Linked DNA regions of Homo sapiens: region 1 is linked to region 2. Evidence: fine-mapped expression QTL. A gene starts in region 2. The other region holds a variant in brackets. All regions are shown on one strand. Distances are between the middles of the regions.

Region 1 (5,388 bases), 270 kb after region 2:
AAGAGCTTCTGCACAGCAAAAAAAAAAAAAAAAAAAAAAAAAAAAACTACCATCAGAATGAACAGGCAACCTACAGAATGGGAGAAAAATTTTGCAATCCACCCATCTGACAAAGAGCTAATATCCAGAATCTACGAAGAGCTCAAACAAATTTACAAGAAAACGAAGAGCTCAAACAAATTTACAAGAAAAAAACAAACAACCCCATCAAAAAGTGGGCAAAGGATATGAACAGACACTTCTCAAAAGAAGACATTTATGCAGCCAACAGACACATGAAAATAATGCTCATCATCACTGGCCATCAGAGAAATGCAAATGAAAACCACAGTGAGATAACATCTTACTCCAGTTAGAATGGCAATCACTAAAAAGTCAGGAAACAACAGATGCTGGAGATGTTGTGGAGAAATAGAAACACTTTTTCACTGTTGGTGGGACTGTAAATTAGTTCAATCATGTGGAAGACATTGTGGCGATTCCTCAAGGACCTAGAACAAGAAATACCATTTGACCCAGCAATCCCGTTACTGGGTATATACCCAAAGGATTATAAATCATGCTACTATAAAGACACATGCACATATATGTATATTGCAGCACTATTCACAACAGCAAAGACTTGGAACCAACCAGAATGTCCATCAATGACAGACTGGATTAAGAAAATTTGGCACATATACACCATGGAATATAATGCAGCCATAAAAAAGGATGAGTTCATGTCCTTTGCAGGGACATGGATGAAGCTGGAAACCATCATTCTCAGCAAACTAACACAGGAACAGAAAACCAAACATCGCACGTTCTCACTCATAGGTGGGAAGTGAATAAGGAGATCACCTGGACACAGGGTGAGGAACATCACACAACAGGGCCTGTCAGGGGGTCGGGGGCTGGGGGAGGGATAGCATTAGGAGAAATACCTAATGTAAATGAGGAATTGATGTGTGCAACAAACCAACATGGCACATGTGTACCTAGGTATCAAAACTGCACGTTGTGCACATGTACCCTAGAACTTAAAGTATAAAAAATAAAAAGTGTGTAACAAACAAGAGGTATGGAGGTCAGGCTATTTAAATGGAGAAGATACTTTATATTTAAACAGTCATTTTCAGAAATCCAACCTTTTTAGTTTGTTCATTCAAAACATTTATTTAATCTCTGGATGGACATATGCTGGTAAGTAGATAATATAGAGGAAGAAAACACACAAGCACATTATTTATCTTAATGGAATTTACAGTCCAAGGGATTGCTTAACTTACTTTGCTTTAGTCTCTGAATGGCTTATATTCATTCAATAGTTATACAGGTATATGCTGGAATTTATTACATATAAAACACCACATGGAATAGAAGGTGCGGAAAATTAAGAACAATAAAATAATATACTCTAAGTAAGTGTATTTATACATTTGAGGACAATACTTTGACTCTTTATTTTTAGATTAATTCAAATAATTTACCATGAAATATCGATCCTGTTGTGTTTTCTAGTGTATAATTAGTTGTTATATAAATTTTTCTATTGCTACAAAGATTCAGTAACAGTCATCGTTCTTTACAATGTTGATACATTTATCATATCTGAATTAAGACATGTTTTATCCTAAATGTATAGAAATGTAAAAAGGCAGGCAATAGTATTGAAGTTTTTAGAGCTATTAGAGTGCTTATTTACAAACATGTTAAATTTCTTCTATATTCTATTTGATTAAAAATGCTTACTATAATCTTGAATAAGCAAAGTAAACAAGTGAAGAGGATTTGTTACCTATAAGTGACACAGGCCAGTATCAAGGGCGCACTCATGATGTGGACAGGAGTCAATACGATCTGATGATCTTCCAGTGAAATGAAAGTGAAGTCCATACTAATTAGCTTATGAATCAGATTGATACTCAAGTTTCTTTGGGCCAAAAAGACTACCTACTGTCAAGCAATCAAGTGCTATCCCTTTAATTGCAATTTATTCCAAGAACCACAATTTATTGATCCTAGCATACACTTAAGCCACAGCAGTATCATTATTTGACTTTATTTTAACAGCTTCAAAAGGTTAGAAAGCTAGAAACCACTGTGAAAGATACCATTAAAAAGTTGAGTTGCTAAGATTGCTTAACACTCTATGCTGAGTAATATTAACAATACATATGGAACTACATAAAAGGAGAGGGGAAAAAAGAATTAATATTACTTAGGAACTCAATATCAGCTGGTGCTTTCTATATCAAATATCCTTTAATAATAACAAACAAATGAAAAGAAGACCAAATTGCTATTTTCATTTTACAGATAAGCAGCAGTTTAGAGAGGTTTTGTAAATAGCCCAGAACTATAATGTTACAATGTTAAAACCATCTATCAACTCTAAAGCCACATGTTTCATTTCTTACATGATTTCTTGCATAATTTTTGCATACTGACCATTCTACAATACTGTGGCCATCTTGACACATGCTTAACAATATTGAAAGTGTGAAGACATAACTCATCCATATGAATTTTGCACCCAATATTATCTTTGAAACGCAAAACATTAATGTCTGATCACTCTAATTTGTTTGCTATATTATCTTTTATGAGCCACATTTTTTTCTTTATTCAATCATTAAAGTTGTATAATTTCACTTTATAATTTTCAGCTAATTAGACAATGTACTCAGCACAATTCTTGGAGCTTCAAAGGCTATTTTTCTTTAGGTAATATTCTGTGACTATAGTGGCCTAGCGTTTGGCATTTCTTGTATGTACTTTCTGAGTAAGCCTTAGTAACTGATTAA[G/C]TGTTACAATTTTTCATGAATCTGCTGTTAACCATGGACAAATCAATACCGAAAGTTGGAGGTCCTAGATTTTCTCCTTGTATTATTCAGAACAACTCTGCTTTTAATGCTTTCAGTTTTTGTACTTCCATACAATTTTATTCACAGAATGAAGAAACCAATACTTTTAAAAATTAATGTAAAATAATGGATCTAGCCCAATGTCCTCATTTTTGCAGGTGAAGAAGTGAAGAATCAAGGAAGTAAAGGACCTGTCTCAAAGTCACACAACTAGTAAGTAATATCTGTGAACTAGAAATAGATAATAAGAAACTGAATTCTATCCATTGCATAATAATAGCTTCTCATTTGAGAAATAATATTTAAAACATGAAACCATGTTCTTATCCCTGCTTAAATCACATATGGTCAGTGCACTAATGGTGTGCCACCTGGATTTAGTCTTGCTATACACTTTGGAGAAATCTTCAAAGTGAATTATGGAATCTTCTGACAGTATTGCTCATGAGATGTTGGCATCCATTTGAGGACTTTCCATGTCCTAGATTCTTAATGTGAATCATCTTATTTAATCCTCACAAAAATATTGTAAGAAAAATGGTTTTATTTCTGTTGTAGAAAGAAATTAAGGCTCTAGGATGGTTGGTAGTTTATCCAAATATGTAGGGCTATTTAATATCTGAGCTAGTTTTTAATTCTGAATATTTCTGACTTTGAAGATGTTCACCTTTGGCATCATACAATTTTGTACTTAAACCAAAAACAAAAAACAAAAAGAGACCAATACAAATAGTATATAATCTCACACTGGTGTGATATAGCCAGCTGTGTGATACAGTGCATAGTTCAAGGTGCTAAGAGAAAACTAAATCGTGACAGATCCACTTGGGTTGACCCTGTATATGCTGTAAAGATTGGTATGCTTTTGCTATTGACTCCCAGCTAGCAATTCTTTGAAAACTGGTCGCTATGAGAACATTACATATAATGATATTTGTAAACATGGGGAAAAACATTGACAACAAATGTACATAACCGTATCACAGGTAGACATTGAGAACTTGTCCAGATAATGTGGAATGAGCATTTAGAAGACAGAGGCTACTTTAACTCTTGTAGTATGAAATAATTATTGAACAAGTAATTAGCATTTTTTTGGATGAGATGTATTTATGTGGAGTTATATAAAATCATTTTCTTTAGAGAGGAGAGTATGAACAGAAACCTGAAGGTGGAAATAAATAGGGATATATTGTCAATATGGCATATGCTAAATCAAAGAATATAGTTATGAAGAATAAGGTGTTATTTCAGAAGGTTGGAGTGGGATTTGTTGATGGAAGCTTTTGAAGCTCAATTTTCAAAATTATATTTTTACTTTATAAACAAGGAGATATTGAAGGTGTTGTTTTGTTATTATTGTTGTTTGTTGGTTCTAATCTGTACATTGCTATCATCAGAGCAATGTGGGGAGTGAAAAAATAATGAGACCAAGGTTTCCTGTTAATCTCTTAAAGATAACAGGACTTCTCCCCACACCATTAGCTGTAATCACCCGGGTTTCTATAGCAACTTTGAGGAGGTCCCAATATCCATTTTCATCCCAAATGCCCTTTTCTTCATAAGTATTGGTAGAATGAATAAATTCCCTTTCTATCTTGCCGATCCATCTTGAAAATCCCTGTCAAGTAAGGGAGAGAATAGATATCATGATAGCTTTTTATTATCCTGGAATCTCATTTCTTCCAAGATAAGAAGTCTTTCAGAGTGAAAATGCTTTTTGTGCTTTGAAGATTCCTGTTTACCTTAAATTTGCACTTCAGATGAAGGGAAGGAAAAGTAAGGGATGCTTACTTTTCTCTTGAAGAGCAAAACAAACAGGAAGAAGGTGTGTTATGCTAAAGCATTTTGATTGTATAACAAAAGAACAACAATGAAAAAGCCTTTATGCAAATTAAGACTGATTTAGTTCCTAAAATGTCAACTGCATGGTTGTAACACTTATAGAAGAAAGTGGTCTGAAAATTTTCTGCCCTAATGTTAGATGACCAATATCAACTTCTCTCCTAATGAGGATTCCTTTTTAATCTTCAGGACTCTCCTCATTTTACAAACCTTCTTCCAGGACTTACATGTATCCACTAATAAAGCTAAACAATACCACCTGGATACTCTGCTGCTTATTGTCTATGATCTTGCAAGTAATGACAGCTGAACTCTGAACAATTTACTTTGTTCTTGCTCAGTTGAATTTATATCCATGAATCTTTCTTCTGTGTTGGAATTTTTTTTTTTGTCTACATTATATTTATGACCCCAGGTCCTCTTTAGCAATGTACTCTATTTAATTTATATTCATTTATCCTATAAGCTATATATCTGCTAAGCTTATCCATTCTATATTGAATCTCTCCTCACTTTCTTAGAGAAAAATATGTATTTTTTTTCTCCTGTTCCAAACATGGGCTATCTCTCTCAAAAGCAATGCCTTTGCCATTAGAGTTCTTTTTGCTAAGTCAATACATATTAACAGTTTTGAGCTTCTAAGAAAGCAGCACTTTGACGTAGGACCTATTCAAGTAAATTCTATATATAAGGT
Region 2 (5,388 bases):
CAATTCAGATAGGTTACTGATTTTTAAGAGTAAATATATGGCAATAACTTAAAGCGGACATTTGCATCTGCCTTTTTATTGAAGAAGGAGAAATAAATTATAATGTTACAGGAAGTGTAGCTAGGTAGTTAGATAATAAAATTTTCTTAACTCCTTAAGCTTGGTGCAATCACCTTCAAGTAAGATATCTCAATCCAATTCTCAGATGTAATTAATAATAAAATCTCTACAATAAGCTAATCCATTGAACATTTGTGATATTATTATGTGGGGAGGAGGTAGGAGGAAGGGGATTGAGTATAACACTGATTCTTCCATTGTTTAAAATATTCTTTGTTTTCCAGAGGACACCAAAGGATAGTTGTACAGGAGCAAGAGTAAATCAGCCCCAGGGAGCACTGTCTCTGTGAGATCCCAGCCTGGAGCTGAAGTAGAGAAGAGTTTCAAGTTGCTGAACACCCCCATGCAGCAGTAAAAAGATATAAGATATCGACACGCTCAGCTGCATCTTGTTAAAAGCTTCCTGCGGGTTGGCAGAATGAAATCTTTACTTAAAACACACAAACTATTGTCAAGGGAAAGATGGAAAAGAGAATACAGTAAAAGGGCCAAATGCTTTGCTTAACCCACCAGAAGCAGTAGAAAGGGAGAGGTGGTCACGTTGTCTTTGCAACAACAACAACAGAAAAGGTGACTAACACAACCACATCAGCCTCCATCTGCTCTTCCCATGGTTTCAAGATGCATTATTTCTTTTATTATTAATTACTTGTGTTTCTGAGGGAGGACAAATATATTATTGTGACTAGCAAGAGAGGAAATCATTTCTGCTTCTACTTGGCATTAAGTACAGTAGTGTATGTAATGACTGAGGGATGGCAGGAAACAGAGCGGCATCATTGAGACCAGCCTCCCTCCTACCAATCCACTCCAACTCGCCCTTGGTAGTCAGAGGCTGCCTAACAGAAAGTTCATGTAAAACCATTATTGAACACTGACAGGAAGGAACTGAGACAGGAGTGAGTGGTGTGTATTTGTGCAGAAAGGGAGAAGGAGGGAGGGAGAGAGAGAGAATATGAGTCAGTCATCATCATCTTGGGGAGACAGCACCGTAAGAGGGGCAAGTGCTTTGTATAATTACAAAAATATGTACACATGCACACACACTTGCACATATGGTGTAATTTTTTTTCGTTCATATCTTGTCATTTCCAAGAACCTTTTTAAGTGATGATGACTGTTTGTGCATGGGAACCTTCTTGGATGGGTAGGCTCCGTGGCTTTAGGGAGGCTGAGCAGGGAACCCGGCAGCGCGTGGGTTCAGGAGAAGGGTCCCTTTTAAAGAGCAAAGGGACACAGCAAGCAGTGGAGAAGGTATGAAAAGAAAAAGGTGAAGGGACCCTGGGGAAAATTCCACCTATAGTGACTAAGCTTTATTTCTCTTCGGGAGAAAGTGACATTTCTGCGATTAGATCATTGACATATAAGGAAAGTAGATGGATAACTGGTTTTTCGTTGTTCTTTTTTTATTTGTTTTCTTCTACAGTGCTTACAGAACCTTTGACCAGATGGTACCTGGAATGCTCTGTGTTGCATATTACAAACAGGATAATTATTTTGGCTTTTTAGAAAACGCACCGACATGGTGACATTGCTCTCTGTTTATCAAGAGACAGAGCATTTGTTGCCTATAGCTGTATGCTCTGATGAGACATGAAAGATAGTAAAATGACAAAAAGCTTCCTGCTGTTTTTCTCTCATCCTGCCCCTTCTTCTCCCCCCAGCTCCAAACCTTATTTCTAGTTTCGCTGGGGGTCTAAGTTCCTCCTCCCCTGTCTCCCGAGTCTGTGGTACACCACATCTGATGCACTCCGATACCCCACTCTACCTTGGGGTAAGGAGGAGGTGGGGAAGAATCCGCTCCCTGCATCCATGTCCTCTCCTCTGCAGCGAGGCATATTCTCAGCAACTCTTGTACAGGTTTTCCCTTCTCAGCTACCACCTTGGCAGAGCTCTATCCCTCCCTCAAGCCCAGCCAGACTGCCAAGCGCCCCGACTGAAAACTCCATCCAGCTCAGCCGAAGTACACCCCCTCCGCCAAGCAACCCCTGTGCCCCTGCCCTTCACCTCCCTAAGTCTGCTCTTCATAAGCATCGATTCCATTGCAAATCAAATGTACGTCCCCCAGCTATTAACACCCACTACCCCTTAGGTGTTACCGACAGCCTCCCTCGGAAAATAATAATAATAATAATAACCGAAAGCACGCGAACACCTGAAGAAGCACAGATCGGGATCCGCATCTGGACCAGTCCTCTGTGGCTATAGTGATGGGGAATAGCCTGTGCCTGACATATCCTCCTGTTCCCGCGCGAACCGCTTTACCCTGGATCCCTGGAATCGTGCCTAGGCACCCGGGCGGCGGGGTCCGCCCAGGCCGCGTCAGGCAGCTCTGGGCCGGTGGGTGCCGGGTCTCCCCTCCTCCCGCCCCATCTGGCGCGCCCGCAGCGCCGCCGCCGCCGCCGCTTCTCTCCCCAGCGGGCGCTCGGAGCATCCCGCGCCGCGTTCTCCCCGCCCCGGCCCCCGCCCGCCGGAGCGGGGCCCACGCCGCTGGCAGCCATCAAGTGGCTCGTTAAGGAAATGCAGGTGAGTGCGTGAGGCCGAGCGGCAGCTGCTGGAGACGTGGGGTGTGTGCCTGTGAGTGCGAGCGAGACGAGGAGGGAGCGCCAGCGAGCGAGCGAGCGAGTGCGGGAGCGGCCGCCTCGGCTCCCCGCCCAGCCGCGCCCGCAGCCGGCGGCCGGAGCGCGTGGGGGCAGCGCCTCGCCCCGACAGAGCCTCGCCTCCTCCTTGCCGTCTCGGCTGCTTCTCCGAGGAGCCGGGAGCCGCTCATCGGCCTCCCCAACCCTGCGCTCCCCTCCCAGCCCGAGTCCTCCCGCTGCTCTTTCTCCTCCTCCTCCCGAGCCTCCTCCCCTCCGGCGCGGCGCCGCCAGCCAGCCTCGGCGGGGAGAGTGCAGGTACTTTGCCTTCAGAATAATTAGCAGGACCCAAGCCGGCTTTCCGAGCGCGCTTTCTTTTTCTTCCTTTGCCCCCTCCCTCCGGAAAAGAAGATCCCACTTTTGAAACAATCAGAAATCGAAGCACCCCACCAAAGCCAAACCCTGACGGGCTGCTGTGCATGTGCCATCCCTTTTTGCAGTTTATTCTGGGCCTGTGTGGAATAGAAAGACAATTCTTTATTTGACTGGTAGGAAAGAAAAGAGAAGACTCCTCAGGGTTTCCAAGGAGGACTGGAGCGGCTGCTTTAGTAAGTAAACTGTGCTTCTGTCTTTCTTTTCTCTAAAGTGAAGCATATGCTGATGCTTTTCAATGCCCAATGTCCAATGCTGTGGACAGTTTATTCATTTTACCTGGGAATAACTTGACTTATATAACTTCAGTAGCTCCTATTTGAGAAGTGGTTCGCTAAGCATTTTTTTCTTTTTTTTTTTTTTTTGGAAGAGCCCTTAGAAGACTTCGATATGGGATCAGTATGGGCAGCCTTACTGGAAAACTGATTTTTAAACGTTTATTGTTCAAGGGCTATTGGAAGCCTGCTTTGTTAAACATTGGTTGGTTCTAAGATTTAAGGGTGGTTATCTAGAAAAAGCTTGAAAAATCTAACCCTACTGGCTCACTTCTCCTGCCACCTTCAACCTCAGCCCTAATCCATGCTAACTCCCACCCTACTCTGACTTCAGTTGGTTGGTTGTTTTATCTTTAGTTCTGAAAAGCTCTAGAAAAAAAAAGGGGGGGGGGGCGGAAAAGGGAAAGTTAATAAGGATGGTTTGAAAGACCAGATGAAAATTCTGTTGCGATTTCTTCATGCCTGTAAGGAGATAATAATTGGAGGAAAATCCTGGAACTAGAATAGTTGGAGAATTAGAATGAACTTAATTTGGAGAGAGAATGTGAAAAATACTTTGGAGAGGGCAGGGCTGAGACTGTGACTTTGACACAGCGGGTTATAAACTCTGACAGGGCTCAGCAGCCAGTGACAGGTTTAAGGTGTCTCCTAAGGCTGAATATCTCTGCATCAAAAACTTTTGCAGGCAGTATTCCTCTTGGGGCTAACATCACCATGTCAGTAGCTGTAGCATTTCTTTTTACAGAAGTAGGACACTCTTCTTTCTACAAAAGGGTTAATAAGTTCATTATACATATATATAAAAAACATGTAGTCTAACATTTGCCAATATTTTGTAATATCTAAATAAAACCTTTGTGTTATGTCAGGAAAAATATAGTTGACTCAGTTTGTTTTGCACAAGAGGGAGAGAATCAATAACATTTCAGCATTTTTTTCTTTATCACTGCCAAATGGATTCTGAATCTAATTCTTCTTGCATTGTTACATATACAGTAGATACAGTAGGAGTTGCAACTTAGACAAAACAGACCTGATTTTTAACAAATCCTAAGTTTTTTGACATGGTAGTACTTATACTGACTAGAGTCTAATAGTGATTAGAAAAAGTTTATCCCTTTTATCTTTAACTGTTAATTTCTTTCTCAGTATAATACATACTTTTTAATAAAAACCCCTTATAAGTTAAAAACCAGATTGAAAAGTAAAAGTACTTATCTCAGAGAATTTCTTTCAATAAAGCAGCTTATTATTAATTATACCTAAGGGCTTCCTTGTATTTAATTGTTGATAATGGTAGAATGAGTATATTTTTACCTCCTTATTTACTTAAGTGAGTATATAAAAGCATCTGTATTCATGGGGGATTGGTTTTAGAAATTATAAGAGTAAGCTAAGTTACAATTATTACAAAAAAGTAGAGATGTTTTAGAGTTGTTTTGATTACTCAGTGTTGAAAGCTCTAAATATCTTGGGCCATAAGTTTTTAGGGTAATGAGACAGGACAATAGAACAGTTAATGAATTGGTTGACATGAAGTTATCATATATGGAATCATTTGAGAAAGATGTGTCATTGTTTCTTGATTATTATTTAATTTCTTATCCAAATGAGTTTTCTTAGACATATTACTGCTCTTAGCTAACATTTCTATTATTGGTTTAAAAATGAATTTAAGTGATTTAAAATGAAGCCCTTGGCTGATCAGATTTGGATTATAGCACATAACCTCTACTCATTTCTGACCTCACATGTCCGAGAGGCTATCTGATATTTGGAAAAAAAAAAACTTAATTATTGAAAAATAAAGGGGAAGATTGTACCTAAGTAGGGCAAATTTAACAGTGGTTCAAACATGTTATTACATATATTAGTATAGGACATATTTTACACAGTAGAGAAGACATGACAGATTTGTGCATTCTTTTTGAATTTCTGAAAGCAAATATTTGTAAGTAACATTAAAACTAACCTGACATACATTC

What was found.
Region 1: its variant is fine-mapped to the expression of PTPRD in pancreas (GTEx, PIP above 0.99).

What each region holds. Positions count from the first base shown.
Region 1 is chr9:10,338,637-10,344,024 of GRCh38, reverse strand. It overlaps PTPRD (protein tyrosine phosphatase receptor type D), which reads left to right. Exons shown (of 46, transcript NM_002839.4): 3 at 3,008-3,062. Among named protein-coding and RNA genes, the nearest start is that of PTPRD, 270 kb to the left of the region's middle. The variant G/C (reference allele first, on the strand shown) is at 2,790.
Region 2 is chr9:10,610,314-10,615,701 of GRCh38, reverse strand. It overlaps PTPRD (protein tyrosine phosphatase receptor type D), which reads left to right and starts at 2,700. Exons shown (of 46, transcript NM_002839.4): 1 at 2,700-3,014; 2 at 3,197-3,304. It overlaps PTPRD-DT (PTPRD divergent transcript), which reads right to left and starts at 2,496. Exons shown (of 3, transcript NR_110696.1): 1 at 2,276-2,496. RefSeq lists a silencer at 2,546-2,755.